Homo sapiens: one gene and its partner. The protein of the gene in region 2 interacts with the protein of the main gene of each other region in a pairwise test. Each region holds a gene or a part of one and is shown on either strand. Other genes may lie near its edges.

Region 1 (7,543 bases), on a different chromosome or scaffold from region 2:
ATCCAAACTATGTTCACCATCAGTACACAAGGGCCCATTGAGGGCGAGAGAGGTGAAATGGGGGGATTATGGACCAAGGGCAAAAGAGGGAAGCAAAGTCTTGAGGGAAGTGGACTGTTCCAGCCCCTCAGAGAGAAGCTGAAGAACATTTTTTTTCACGGACAGGGTGATGAATCACCTTTCCAGAGCCTATGCACTGCCAGTCCTCTGACAATGTTTGTTAAATGAAGGGTCAAACGGGCAAAGGCAGAACAGCTGCCTGGATATGAACAATCCCAGCATGGACTTTCCCTCTCATTCCTCGGGTGCTCCTCATCAGGCTCGAGGGTATGTGTCACCTCCAGTCCCGAGTCACTGTACTGACCTCCCACCGACTGCCCACTACACCTCATAAACCCCAAGTCCATGGATGAAGGGAAACCCCATGCAGAAGTGTACCCTGGTGCTCACCCCCATGGCAGAGCCCACTGGACAAATCCTGTACGTAACAACAGAAGAAGAGCAGAGCACAAAACCCTCACAGAGGCAGGCCCCCGGAGCACTGGAGGAAATCTTGCCTTCCTCCCACACACCATCACTCAAACCTGTCAGCTTCCAAAAATGTTTAGCAAGTGCAGCAGCAAGGGGCATGCTTATCAGCCTGGTGTGGGAGCTTAATCTGCTTTGAGGGCCTTCTCCAGCCCAGAGTTCCAAAAGTCTGCTTACAATTAGCTTCAGCTCCAGTTCCCGCATCAGAAAGCCTAGGAACGTGTTGAGCTCTAGCCTCTGATCAGAGAAAGCTCCAGGAGAAGGTGGAGATGGTGTCAGCAGGGAAGTATGTGCCAAAAAGGTCAGCTGGTCTGTTGCCATTTTCCTGACACCAGCCCCAAACCACCTCCCCTCTGGCTTCCCGCCTCTCCTAACCGGACAGTCACATCCGTCAGGTCGGCCTGTCCCCAAAAGTCCCTGCTGACTGACTGCCAAGAAAATATAGCCCCCTCCTACCAGAAGAAGGGGGAAATGGAGCGGGGAGGACCAAGAGAACCTGATTGGCCCTTGCTAATTTCTGTAAAAGAGATTGCACGGCCAGGGCTTGTCTGGATGCAGGCTCTGTCTGGAAAGGTAGGAGTCACCAATTCTCTTCAAGCCATCTCCCATCCCCACGCCCCGTCACTCGGGCTACCAACACCAGGATCTACCACCCAGGAAGGAGGGGCTTAGCTTCGGCCGCCATTCTGAGGCAGCCACCTCCACCCCCACCCCCACCGCAACAGCCAGCCAAGGCGCTAGGAGTCTCCAGCTGCCGGCCTCAGCTGGTGCACTAGTACCGCAGTCCCAGCACCTTGCCCGGAATCCCGTCACCCCGCAGGATGGGGCAGGGACAGGTCATCTTCAAGCCAAGGGAAGAGCAGGTTCACTGCCACCCGCGATCCCCTTTTCTTCCTGGATCTTACAGCCAGGCTAGGGGGCGTCGAACCCAATGGGGCCTTAGATCATTCCTTGTCCGGAACAGAATCTCTGCGGAACCGCCAGACAGACACACAGCTGCTGCTGCGGATACTGGCTTCTTGGGGCCAAGACCTCAACATGCAGGACCTCACATTTCCAGCGATGCACACGTTTTTTGAGAACATCCCGACCTTTCCTCCTCCCCAGGAAGATGCTGCAGACGTGCCCGCCATCCCAGGTCTCGAAGAGCTCTTAAGGCAAACCTCCGGCACCCGGGCCACACCCACCGGCCGGCCCACTCTCCTCGCGCATCCCCCAACCTGCCGGCCTAAGGGGAATGGTTCCCTTCCCTGGCCACATGGTAGACCCTTCTCCCATCCAGCCCTTTCTCCCACACCATCCCGAAAGAACTATTCATCCATCCTTCCAGAACAGTACCCCGGCAAACGGCATCTCTCACCTGGGTATCGAACCCGTTTTCCACCGAGCCGCTCTTCCGCAGCGGGAGCCCCTCCCCCGCTGGCTCCTGCAGCCCCTGCAGCACCTGCGATTTCAGGGGGATCTGGCTAGGATAGGTGGTCTTGCTCACCTCCACCTTGCTTCCCAACTTCAGGTAGCAGGGCTGGGGGCCCGCCCGGGCCGGGGGCACGTGCAGGATGGGCGCGGCGCTGTGCACGGGTTTGGGCAGTCCCGACTTCATTTTGGAGGCGACCAGGATGGCCGGCATCTTCTCCCGGGGCTTGGGCTTTCCCAGCACGTCCCTGGCAGCGGCGGCGGGGGCGACCGCTAAAGGCAGCGCGGGTAGCAGAGCAGGCGCCGGGCCTTAGCCCACGAGGCGCCCACCACCAGCGGCTAAAAAAAAAATCCCCAGGTCGGGGAACTCGAAGCAATCGGGCGAGCGCGCCTTTGGGGTGCCGGGATGGGAATGGGGGACTGGCCACGGCGCTCAGCGGGTCCCACCTGGACGGATGCTGCCGCCGGGTCTCACACCTCTCCTGGGTGGCCTTTCAAGAGCTCTGGGCGCTCAGGGGCTGCCGCCTCTTGCAAATTTCCTCCTGGGAAACAGAGGCTTGGACGCCCATATTAACTTGTCACTGCATCTCCGAAGTGAGGAGGCCCCTTTGGAAGAGACAGAGGCGGCGGCGACCCACGAGTCCCGTTCCGGAGGCTACGGGTCTGAGCCGGCGAGAGAAAGAGCGAGCAGCCAAGGAAGGAAAGGAGACAGCAGCGAAGGAAGGAGAGAAGAAGGGCGCAAGGGTCCCAAGACGTCTCCACCGAGAGGCAGCTGCCACCCTGCTCGCGAGCACCGCAGTGTCACCCGCGACGCAGCAGAGGTGCGGCAAGAGCCCCCGAAAGGTCTCTCTTGGGGTGACAGTCACCGCTGCCCAGAAGGCCCCCGGACTGAGAGCACCTTAGCGCCTGCGGGTCTGCACATGCTCCGTGAGCTAGATAGAGGCAAGGCTGTGGCCGTGGGGCGCGGGCGCCGGGACGCGCGGCTGGCGGGCCGGGCAGGGCTGCGCTCGGGAGCGGCCGCCGCGCTTCCCGGGAAGGCTGCGCTGGCTGCGGGGCTCAGCGCAGGGGAGGACAGGCTGCTGCCGGCGCTGCTGCGGCGCGCGCTGACAGCCGGGGCCGCCCCGGCGCGCCCATTGGTCCACGGTGCGCCAATCAGCGGCCGCGGGTCTCACTGCAAAGAGGGTGTGGCCTAAACTCTGGCCGCCGCCGAAACTCTGGGGCCGCGCTTGGCCGCGAGTACAAAGCGGGCTGGTGGCCGCTTTGCGGCACTGCCCCGGCCGCGCGCCTCCCGGGGGGCCCACACCCCTGCGTTCCTGAAACCCTTCTTTTGAAAAATGCCCTTTCGAACGCAACCGTCCGCCCCAGAGCCACGCGGGCACGGCTCGAGGGAAGTTTGTTTCCTTTTTCAAATTGCTCCGGTCACCTTAACGGTTTGAGTCTTCCGGAGTCACGCCCGCAGCCTCGCTGCCCCCATCTGGCTTGGGCAGGGCCGAAGCTCGTCTCCCGCTTTAAGAGCGCGCCAGCCATTTCTCTGCCTGCTCTTCCAGGCCGGCTGGGCGGGGGGCCTCCCAACGGCTTCCTCTCCAGTTTTCAAAGGCTGCACATTTCACTTAACTATTTGAAGTATTTATAGGCAAATACAATACGCAGGGAAGCTTCCCGCCCCGAGACAGCTCCTCCACGCAACCTACCACAGACTCTGTAATTAGAGTGGCCTGAAGAAGCCGGGAGAGGCTCCATGACCCCGGCAGGCTCTGGCCAAACCTTGCTGCGTTTCATGGAGCCCCTCCCTGTCCGCGCCTGGGACGCACTGGCCCCAACAGGTTCCTCGACTCGAATTCGCTGTTTGGGTTGCTCTGTGGTTTCCTCGCTGACTGAAAGTGGATGAGAATAAGAAGGAAACTGAGAGATGATCAGGCAGGCCAGCCTTCGCGATTTATGAATGAGGAGCCTCCCACCCTGTAGAACTGCTTGGATTAGAAGTGGGCAAGTTATTTAAGCTTACATGCATGCTTATAAAGCTTCTGTTTTCACATGTAGTAAGGTGGAGGCTTGACGACATTTACCTAATGAGCTGTTGTTTGGATTAAATGAGATGGTTGGTGCATGGCAGTCATTTAGCACAAGTACCTGGCAATGTAAGAGACCAATAAAAGCTGGGCTTTATTTTCCCTGTTGTTAAATTACTGCTGCTTTCCCCCAAAGTCATCTCTGTTTATAAACTATTTGTCTTTCTTCTTTGTTTCCAGGACACTTTGTGCCCACCCTATAGCCTGATCTTCAGTGCTGATAGCATTGATTTAGAATAACTCAGATGCTATTAACTCTGTCCCCCTGGAATTCATGTTAAACCCGTAATCCCCAGTGTGATGGTATTAGGAGGTGGGGAACTTTAGGAGGTAATAAGGTCAAGACAGTGGAGCCCTCATGATAGGATTAGCACTCTTATTAGAAGAGACAGGAGAGAGATGCTTTCTTACTGCCTTGTGAGGACACAGAAGGCAGTCTTCTGTGGACCAGGAAGAGGGCCCTTACCAAGAATCTGATACCGTGTTGGCATCCTAGTCTCAGACTTCCAGCCTCTAGTACTGTAAGAAATAAATGTTTGTTGTTTAAGCCATCCTGTTTATGGTATTTTTGTTATAGTGGCCCAAAGTGACAAAGATCTCAGACCAGAGGAAACATCAAAGTCTTAACCTCTGAAGCATTAAGAAATGAGAAGGCACCTTCTTAGCCATTCTAGGTAGCAACTTTCTACTCTAGTTAGGCTGAAATGCACGGCCCTGTCTATGTCTGTTTCAGTTATCCTCCCTCTCTCTGAAATCAAGTCACACATCATTCATGCTACTTACTTAACACTTTGCCCTTTGCCATCTGATGCCACCTCCCGTACTATTGTCTCCCATTATTTAACCTGTTATTTATTGTTTCATGCATTCATTTTCATCTTAGAGAATAAACATCTTGGAATTAGGAGCTGTGTTTTAACTTTCTTTAGATCTTCTCAGTATGGAGCATAAAGCTGTGGACAGAATAGCTACCCAACATTTATACTGAATGAATGATTGAATGATGCTAGAAGAAGGAGAGATTGTCTTTTAGATTTAGGAACATAAGGACATACGAAATATTATGCTATAAACCTTGGGACTCTTTTGCCTGCCCTGAATTCTAGTTCTGACCAGTGTACCAAGATTTGTGGAAAGATATCACAATCTTCAGCTTCTAAAGATCAGGGAGATATTCCAAAGTATTCCCATGGCCCTAATGCAGTGGTTCTCAAAGTGTGGTCCCTGGAGCTGCAGAAGCATTACCTGGAAACTTGTTTGAAAGCTCCACCCAGACCTATTGAATCAAAAGCCCTGGGGATGGGGCCCAGCAATCTGTGTTTCAACAGTGTTCAACCTAGTGATTATGATGCATACTAAAACTTGAGATATTCTGCCCTAATGAATATATCATGCATTCAGTGCATCTCCAGAACTTCTTAAACCTTAATATGCCTAAGAATCACTGGGGATCTTGCTAAAATACAGATTCAGATTCAGTTGGTCTAGAATGGGGCTGAGATTCTGCTTTCCGAGTAAGTTCTCATGTCATGCACATGCTGGTGTTCTAAAGATCACGCTTTGAGTAGCACAGACAGCAGGAGGATTTCATCTTAAGGGCCATCTACTGAAAAGGATCTCAGAGTGCATCCATCTAGTTGGAAATAGCCGCCTGATCACTTGATAATGTCTGCTATGGGTATATAAATGGAAATAGTGAAATACATATTATGTATTTGCCATCTTTGGTTTCCTGTTTAAATTGTATTTACTGCCAAGGTCATTTCGGGGTTCTGAGACCCTCAAATATGCATAAATATGAACAACAGTATTTCTTTTAAAGTATTTCTAATGTTCTAGGATTGGTAAACATGAGCATTTCCCTTAACCCTGTGTGTTTTATATAACTAAATTCTGATAATTCTTCATTTTTCTTGATGAAAGATCTTTCACTTGAGGACAAGTGAATCTTTTAGTCTGTTTCCAAATTTCTTTCTTTTCCTGCCTCTTCTTCCCTTTAGTAATTCTATTTGCTTTTTCCTGGAGCATTATTTATCTCCTTTTTTTTTGTGACCGAGTTTTGCTCTAATTTCCCAGGCTGGAAGCTGGAGTGCAATGGCGCGATCTTGGCTCACTGCAGCTGGGATTACAGGCGCATGCCACCACACCCGGCTAATTTTTGTATTTTTAGTAGAGACGGGGTTTCGTCATATTGGTCAGGCTGGTCTGGAACTCCAGACCTCAAGTGATCCACCTGCCTTGGCCTCCCAAAGATTCATCTCCTTTTATATCTTTTTTTTTTTTTTTTTTTTTTTGAGACGGAGTCTCACTCTGCTGCCCAGGCTGGAGTGCAGTGGCACGATATTGGCTCACTACCCAGGAAGCTCCGCCTCCTGGGTACACCCCATTCTCCTGCCTCAGCCTCCTGAGTAGCTGGGACTACAGGCACCCGCCACCATGCCCAGCTAATTTTTTGTATTTTTAGTAGAGACGGGGTTCCACCATGTTAGCCAGGATGGTCTCGACCTCCTGACCTCGTGATTCGCCCGCCTTGGCCTCCCAAAGTGCTGGGATTACAGGCGTGAGCCACCGTGCCTGGCCCTATCTCCTTTTAGATATTTTCTATAAACGTTCATTTTTCTTATTTAAAGCAAAATAATTTATCATAATAACCAGACAAGGGTGGGGCGGGGGGAAGCTATTTTTTCTCCTAGGATAAATGAGATAATTATAAGTTTCTTACTTAAATAAGATAATCTCAAATTATAAAAACGGCCTATAAGTTTACTCCTTCCACACTGATACTGTGTTAACATGAAAAACGTCATTTTAAATCAATGTTTTGCAAGCATTGGAGGCTAACGCAAGTCACTGGTTTGGAGAATGGCAAGCTGCTCTGGAAAGAATACACTATCCAGGTATTAAAATAACTTTTTTCTTTTTTTCTTTTTTTTTTTTTTTTACTATATGCATTATGGACAAGTATGCCAAGTTGAAATGGCCCACCATTTTAAATTCCAACTTTGACAACCATTCTTTATTTTTCTTCTGGCTCAGAACTTGCAGAATCACCCAAATGTCAGTGATAGGCCAAATTGAAACGTATTATCAAAGCTCTCAGGTCCACTGAATCATCCTAAGAGACTGGATAGTTCCCTGGTTCTAAGAGCCATCCTCAGATCAGGAAGTGCCAGCTGCACCCCTCTCTGCTCCTCAACGTCAGCCACTTGTGATTAGTTGAGTGTGAATTGGGCTTCAGACCTGACCTGTGAGTGACCAGTTCCATCAACCCATCCTTCATCTTAGTTAAAGACCCCTGTTGGCCTGACCTCCCAAGAAGACAGTCCGGTGAAGAGCCTGGAACATCTAAGGCCCAGCCTGTCACAAAAAAATGCAGGGATCTTGGGGGGAAAAGTCTACAGCCTTTTGGAGACCCTAGATTATACATGATGAGGGGAAATGTTGCAAAGTTTCTTGAATAATATAAAAAGCAAAATATTTATGAGTTTATTTGGGAGTAAAAAAAATGCACTTTTCCTTAATTTTCTACAAAT
Region 2 (7,020 bases):
ACTGGATGATGGTAAACTCAGAACCAATAAAAGGAAATTCTTCCCATGGCATTTTAAAGTTGTTCTGTGAGATTAAATCAAGCACACACAATTTGGTTTTGAGAGAAATTGAAAAACTGTCCACTGAATAAAATATGTGGTTATGTTTTATATTTTTATAAACTAAAAATAATAAAAACACTGAAAAATTTTGTTTCAAGTTACCATCTGAAATGGTTTGGCTGTGTCCCCACCCAAATCTCACCTTGAATTCCCACGTGTTGTGGGAGGAACCCGATGGGAGGTAATTGAATCACGGGGGCAGGTCTTTCCCATGCTATTCTCCTGATACAAACTAAGTCTCACGAGATCTGATGGTTTTAAAAAGAGGAGTTCCCCTACACAAGTTCTCTCCCTTTGCCTGCTGCCATCCACATAAGATGTGATTTGTTCCTCCTTGCCTTCCACCATGATTGTGAGGCCTCCCCAGCCATGTGGAACTGTAAGTCCAATTAAATCTCTTTCTTTTGTAAATTGCCCAGTCTTGGGTGTGTCTTTATCAGCAGCGTGAAAATGAACTAATACACCATCTAACTGTAGAATCAAATAAGATAAGAATGCTAAGTTGTACGTATCAAAAATATGTGAATTTTGTATACAGTATTTGATTAGCAATTTTCATGAACTTGTGAAGTGATCTCTCTCAGATGGTTATTAACATATATAAAATATTCAAACACTCTTTTGGACTCACTGGGCCATTGTAGGTCAATTATATACACTAGAGAAGGGGTCCTCCTTCCTCAAAGTATGTTGGTCTCTAGGTATACATATGGATAAGTGGACCAGATATTTCATAGTATGAATAGGCAGTCTATAAAATGGCAAACAGTCCCCAAAAATAATCCTAGCAAAGAAAAGCACCCGATTTTTGTCTAAAGACTTCAAGCTTTCCAGATTTTGGAAATTTTAATTAAATTCACTTTTTTAAAATTTTGCCATTAGAAGTGACTGGAAAAGCAGCTGGGATTCTTTTGCGAACAAAGGTTAGCAATTATCTCAGCTCATAACAATGAAGAGACCAAAATTAGCTGTTCATGTTATCCTCAGATTATTGCTAGAGGCTGAATCCCATTAGGCTCATGATCTGATAACAGAAATAGTCCATCTTTCAAAATGCCCCATTCATATTATCAAGGGAAAGAATTAATGGCATGAGTCTTTTTCCTTTAATTTTACCTTAGGGGCTAATACATTATTTTGACTTAAGTAGTCATCTCATCTCTTCTTTAACTTATTGCATTCTCATAAAGAATGGTTTCAAGTCTACCCATTCTGGGCTGTTTTAAAAGTTTTTCAGCGTCAGACCCTCAGACCCTATAGGGTTCAAATTAGTCGATGTTAAGGCCTCTCCATTTCTAAGATGTTTTAATTCAGTGGTTATTAATCCAGACCCCACAGTTAGACTTCAGAAAAATCCTGGAAACCTCTCCTATTTCTGGGATGCATGCAACACAAGATGTAAGATATGCAAATAAGTGTGTGCATGTGTATATTACCATCAGATTCTCAAAAGAGTTTGTGATATAAAAATGTTATGGTTCTCTGCCCAAATCTATGTATTATTCTTGCTAGGCCACTCTTTTTACATCCAGTATTCTAACATAACCAGAGTAGGGAATATGGATTTTTTTCAGAATTAAAGTGATAAACGTAAAGCTGCTCTGTTAAGCAGGTAGGCATACAATATACATCGGAGTATAAACTGTTATCTAAACTATCTAAATTGAAGAATTTGCAAGCACTCTTCAATGAGAGCAAGGAGAAGAATAGGAAATCTGTCTCAAAATATACATTGGACAGAAGTGAAAATCATGATTCCACAATCCTGTAAGTAGACCCTAGGTAGTATCAGTCTCTCTCCCAGCCATTCCATCCCACCTTCTCCAACAAGCAGTAACTATAATCTGAATTTTTTGCTGTTCACACGTGTGAATGGATTGCTAGATTTGAGCAACTGGTTTCTTGCAAAGCTAGTTACAGAGATAGACATCTGAGCTCACTTTGGAAACCATTTGCATAACCATATGATCAATAATCAGGTTTGCAATTTTACAAGAATGGAAGTCATCAAACTCTGCTTCTGGGCCTAAAGCAATCACTATAGGCTTGCACCTGCCTCTGATGTGTCAATGTACTCAGTAGAGCCAACACAGGCTCTCCAACTGAGGGCTCCAATTGCCAAGGCAAACCTGTGTTAGGAAGAAAGAGCTAGGGAACAGACATGTAACTTGGTGTTTACTTTGAGCTCCAACGCCTTCTGTTGGTTTTCCTGGGATAGCTGCTCACAGACCAAACTGTGCTGTTCATTCTCTTGCTGAAGTTTAGCATTTCTCATCTGAAATTGCTCGAGTTCCTTTGCAGCTCTCTCATTCAATATCTGAAAGGGATGGAATGAGCTGGTTAATGCTTTTTAATCTGATTACAATAGTTGGATATACACACAGGGGGCCCCACAAACCTCCTGGGAAGATAACAGCAACCCTGAGTTTTTGTCTTTGTAGAAATTGTTCTTTATTCCCGATGAAAGCACTAACGCACTCAAATATGATGAATGTTAAACGGTTGAGGAAAATGATGCCTTCTAATGAATAACACAGTGAGCATAATTTTTTTTCTGAGAGCCTTGGGAAGTCTTGTTCACAGGTGGTGGATAAATATTTTAATGCCTGTTTGCCATTTGGCAGGCTTCGCATATGCAACAATTGCTATAATCATTGCAAATGAGCTAGAGATTCAAACGGATTTTATAAGCTGTGGGGCTCGGAAGCTACATCTTCAGAAGCAAATCCTGCATTAACATGCCTACAACATTTTTGTCAACAGAACTGTTCACTAACACCAACACAGAGACAATTTTCTTTTAATCTAACTTAAGTCGAAACCGTGGAACAGCAGCAAAGTGATTTATATCTGCTTGAGTGCAGTGTCAGCCAGATTTTCCTCTTCCCTGCCTTGACTATCCTAAGCAGATATGGTTTTATAAAAACAAAGGATTATATCTTGGGGGCTCATTTCTATTGGGGGAATATTGAGGAGGTGGAGGGATAGCAAATGAATTGCAGGATAAAAATAGAAAGCCAGTTTAGGTAATGTCTCCAAAATATAACTTCCATGCACACAAAAATTAAGCATGAAAAGAATCCAGCTAATTCTCCATCAATAGGGACTAAATAAAATGTAACCAGTTATGCTAAAAATGAAATTGTGTTTCATAGGAGAATAGTTTTTATCCTGATGTCCAAAAGCCTCTCTTATGTTTCATGCTCAAAGAAGTCTCATGTTTTTCTGCTGGAGGCGGCACACTGTGAATTATCTATTTGACTTCTGACTTTATACAAAATTAATAGAGCAACGGACAAAAAAAAAGTATATTTATATCTATTTTTGAGTATAAAACTGCTATATGGCTTGACAATTCTTTGGAAACAAGCTTCCTGAGGAAAAACATATTTAAGAAAAGACTTTTCAATTATATGAATTGCTTCTTTAAGAAATGAGAGAAAACATAATACAATTACTAATACTTGTGTCACCCTAAACTGCTATAATAGAGGAAGTGTTAAAAACAGTACCATATTAAAAATACATAAAGACTGACCCTAGTTTGCTAAACTTGAAAATAACTTAAAAATAAACCTGTCGGCTGGGTGCGGTGGCTCATGCCTGTAATCCTAGCACCCTGGGAGGCCAAGACAGTTGGATTACTTGAGGTCAGGAGCTCGAGACCAGCCTGGCCAACATGGTGACACCCTGTCTCTACTAAAAATATAAAAATTAGCCAGGCATGGTGGCAGACTCCAGTTACTCGGGAGACTGAGGCAGGAGAATCGCTTCAACCCAGGAGGTGGAGGTTGCAGTGAGCTGAGATCATGCCACTGTGCTCCAGCCTGGGTGACAGAGAGACTCCATCTCAAAAAAAATAAAAATAAAAATAAAAATAAATAAATAAAAATAAAACTGTTAAAAATAAATTGTTATACTCACCCAGTGGAATACTGCACAGCAATGAGAGCTCATGCTCTACTGAGCTCTGTCCAATAGAGCTTTCTGCAGTGATGTAAATGTTCTCTGTCTGTGCTAATATGGCATCAACTAGCCATCTGTGGCTACTGAGTACTTGAAATGATGCTGGTACAACCAAGGAAATGAATTTTTAATTTAATTTCATTTTAATAAAGTTGAATTTAAATAGCCACTTGTTGCTAAGGGTTACCATATTGGGCATCACAAGTCTATAACTACATGGCAACAACATGAATATATCTCACAAACAGAATATAGCAGAAGTTAGACACAAAGAATATATCCTGTAATATTTTATTTCTGTAAAGTATAAAGACAGGCGAAACCAAACTCTGCTTAGAATTCAGGATAGAGATGGTATTTTAGGGGGAGAAGGACTAAGAGGGAGCACAAAAGGGCTTCTGGGGGTGCTGGTAATGTTCTGTTTCTCTGGCTGGGAGCAGGTGACCAAGATGCGGTTGAGTGGTGAAAATTCATCAAGCTGTCCACTTGTGACATATACACTTGTCTATATGTGTAGTATAGATCAATAGAAGGTTAAAAAGAAACTTATTAACCTGTTAGAGCTGGGAAATTTAAAAGGGGGGGCATAACTACCTCATAAGAGCCATTCAAAGACCAAATTGCAGTGCTAAGTTTTACATCATCAGCACGAGTAGTGAAGGGAATTTGCTGCTTTCCAAGAGAATTCAAAATGCACAAAAGGGTGAATAAAGGTGCCATTCTGGGTTTTTCTTGGTTTTTTGCGAAGACCCACACCCAACTCACCTTCTGCTCCTTCAGCTGCTGCTCCAGCTTCTGAAGCTCCTCCTTGCTCTTCTGCACATACTGCTGCAGGGCTTTTATTTCTGTCTGCCTGCTGTCCATGTCTGCCTGAATCTGCTTGAGCTCTTTCTCTAGTTTTTCCTTCTTCCGGAACTCCCGGGAAGCTTCGTTCTGACGTTGCTGGATTTCTTGTTGGAACTAGAGGTTGCGGAAAGGACAAGAGAGAAAGAGATGAGCCCTGACCATGGCAGGTCTCAGCCAGCCAAGCCCCCTCCTCTCTCAGGTCTGTGATTGTCAAGGCAGCACTTTGCAGTAGCATTTCCCCTATAGGGCAGACATCCTTGAGCCCCAGTGTTCAAACTTTTCAGGAATATTCTATACTGTTTCTTGGGGCCTTGAAATCAAATGACTACCCTGATGGTGGGCAACAAATCCACAAAGTGTGGTATAAAATCAAATACATATGGAAGCTCAGAGTTCTAGGGGCGTTAAACATGGAAAGAATTCATCCCGTTCTTTATCAATAGGGACTAAATAAAATGTGGCTAGCTACCCTAAGTATAAAATTGTGTTTTACATGACCCTGGATATTGCTAAAGAGAGCATTATAGGTTTATCTTGATGTCCAAATGCTATGAAAAGCCTTTTTCTTATCTCATGTTCAAAGAAGTCTCATGTTTTTCTCTTGGAGACTGCACATTGTGTATGACCTATTTGACTTCTGGCTTTATGTAAAAGTGTTCAGAAGAAGTCTGCTAAATGGCTTTCTAATAAAAATAAATAAATAAATAAGTAGGGCCAAAGAAACTACTTCCACCACCCCCAGATGTTGGGCCCCCTGGCCTTCATGGAGATCATCTTTTTGAGCCAGAATTGTAAGTAGGGAGTGCCCGCCTCAGTGACTTCTCAGACAGAGAATGCAGAGAAAGAACAATTCAAGTCGTTCAAATCAAGTAAAGCTCCTCTCAAGAGAACAAACTAAAGAAACAAGCAGAACTGAGGATGTTTCATTTGGGCGCTAGGGGGTAAATTTGAGAAAGGAGCAAGATGGGAATAGAGACTGTGGAGGGACAAACATCCTCTGGAAGGAAATATTCCTTCTTCTTGCCCTCCATGGCAGACCTGACTGATGGCATGTTCAGCCTCCTCTTTTGATCGCTCTGTTTCCTGCTGCTGTTCAGTGGTCTGAGCTAGGGATTCTCGTAATTTTACCACTTCTGATAAGAGCTGGTCTCTCTCCTTTGTCACTTCTTCTTTGAACCTCAGTAAATCTCGGATGCTAAAAAGGAAGAACACAGGAGTCAGACTAAATGGCCATCTGCTCAGGGGTCCTTCATATCATTCTCTGAGTTCATTTTCATGGGAAAGATGTCAGGTCAATGATTAACACTATTCAGACATTAAAGAGAAAGATCTTTATGCCATGATATGGGATCAGATTGTGAAATGTTAACTGGAAAGAAGTACTAATGATAACATGCATAGTATAATTTATTTTTTTATTTTTAAGAAAATACAATGTCTATTCATGCGTGTGAGAGTGTGTGTGTGTGTGTGTGTGTGTGTGTGTGTGTGTGTGTGTGTTTTACAGACATTTTTACAGAGCCCAGAAAAACATATCACTGATTATCTCTGAGAAATTTAGGGTGGAAAGTTGTGGGGGTTGATACTTTCCACACCTCTGTATTACTTGAATTTGTTATGATAAGACTATATTGCTATTGTCAACTCTGGTAATTAATCCTAAGCAGATGTCAATTTAGGAAACTATTTGTTTAATATATCCACTGGAGGGCTATGATCACAGCTATAAACTCTAGAATAAAGCATAAACAGAACAAAATAATATGCATTGCTAGTTTTCTATCAATTTACCCAAAAAGATTAGTTTCTCCCAAATGAATGCAGCCCAGATAAAATGTTACAAAGAACAAAATTGGGAAAATCATTCATGATGCCCATTTTTGGAGGTTATGTGATAATATTCATTGATTTGAATTGTAAACCAGTTACCTCCAAATTTCAAAAGCCATTCCATATGATTTGGCATGACTTCCTGCAGAATTAGCACTTTGCAATTGGAAGCTCAGTGTCTGATACGACCTCTGCAGCAGAATGAATGTAGAGCAAGGCAGCTCTTGGAGCTGAGAAGGCAGAGGAGAACTTGCACTGCAGACTCTTGCAGCTGAC

The links. Proteins that work in one complex are often made in the same cells at the same time.
Region 1: the proteins of CFAP58 (region 2) and NAV2 interact in binary tests that used the Homo sapiens proteins (3 or more experiments, as listed by UniProt).

What each region holds. Positions count from the first base shown.
Region 1 is NC_000011.10:19,708,308-19,715,850, reverse strand, and holds the start of NAV2 (neuron navigator 2), read right to left. Parts: upstream 3,015-7,543; 5' UTR 2,156-3,014; coding exon 1,889-2,155; exon of another isoform or gene 1,179-1,888; intron 1-1,178. UniProt on the Homo sapiens protein: Possesses 3' to 5' helicase activity and exonuclease activity. Involved in neuronal development, specifically in the development of different sensory organs.
Region 2 is NC_000010.11:104,363,822-104,370,841, reverse strand, and holds part of CFAP58 (cilia- and flagella-associated protein 58), read right to left. Parts: intron 6,110-7,020; coding exon 5,953-6,109; intron 5,029-5,952; coding exon 4,834-5,028; intron 2,420-4,833; coding exon 2,282-2,419; intron 1-2,281. UniProt on the Homo sapiens protein: Has an essential role in the assembly and organization of the sperm flagellar axoneme. Required for the elongation of the primary cilium and sperm flagellar midpiece via modulation of the Notch signaling pathway.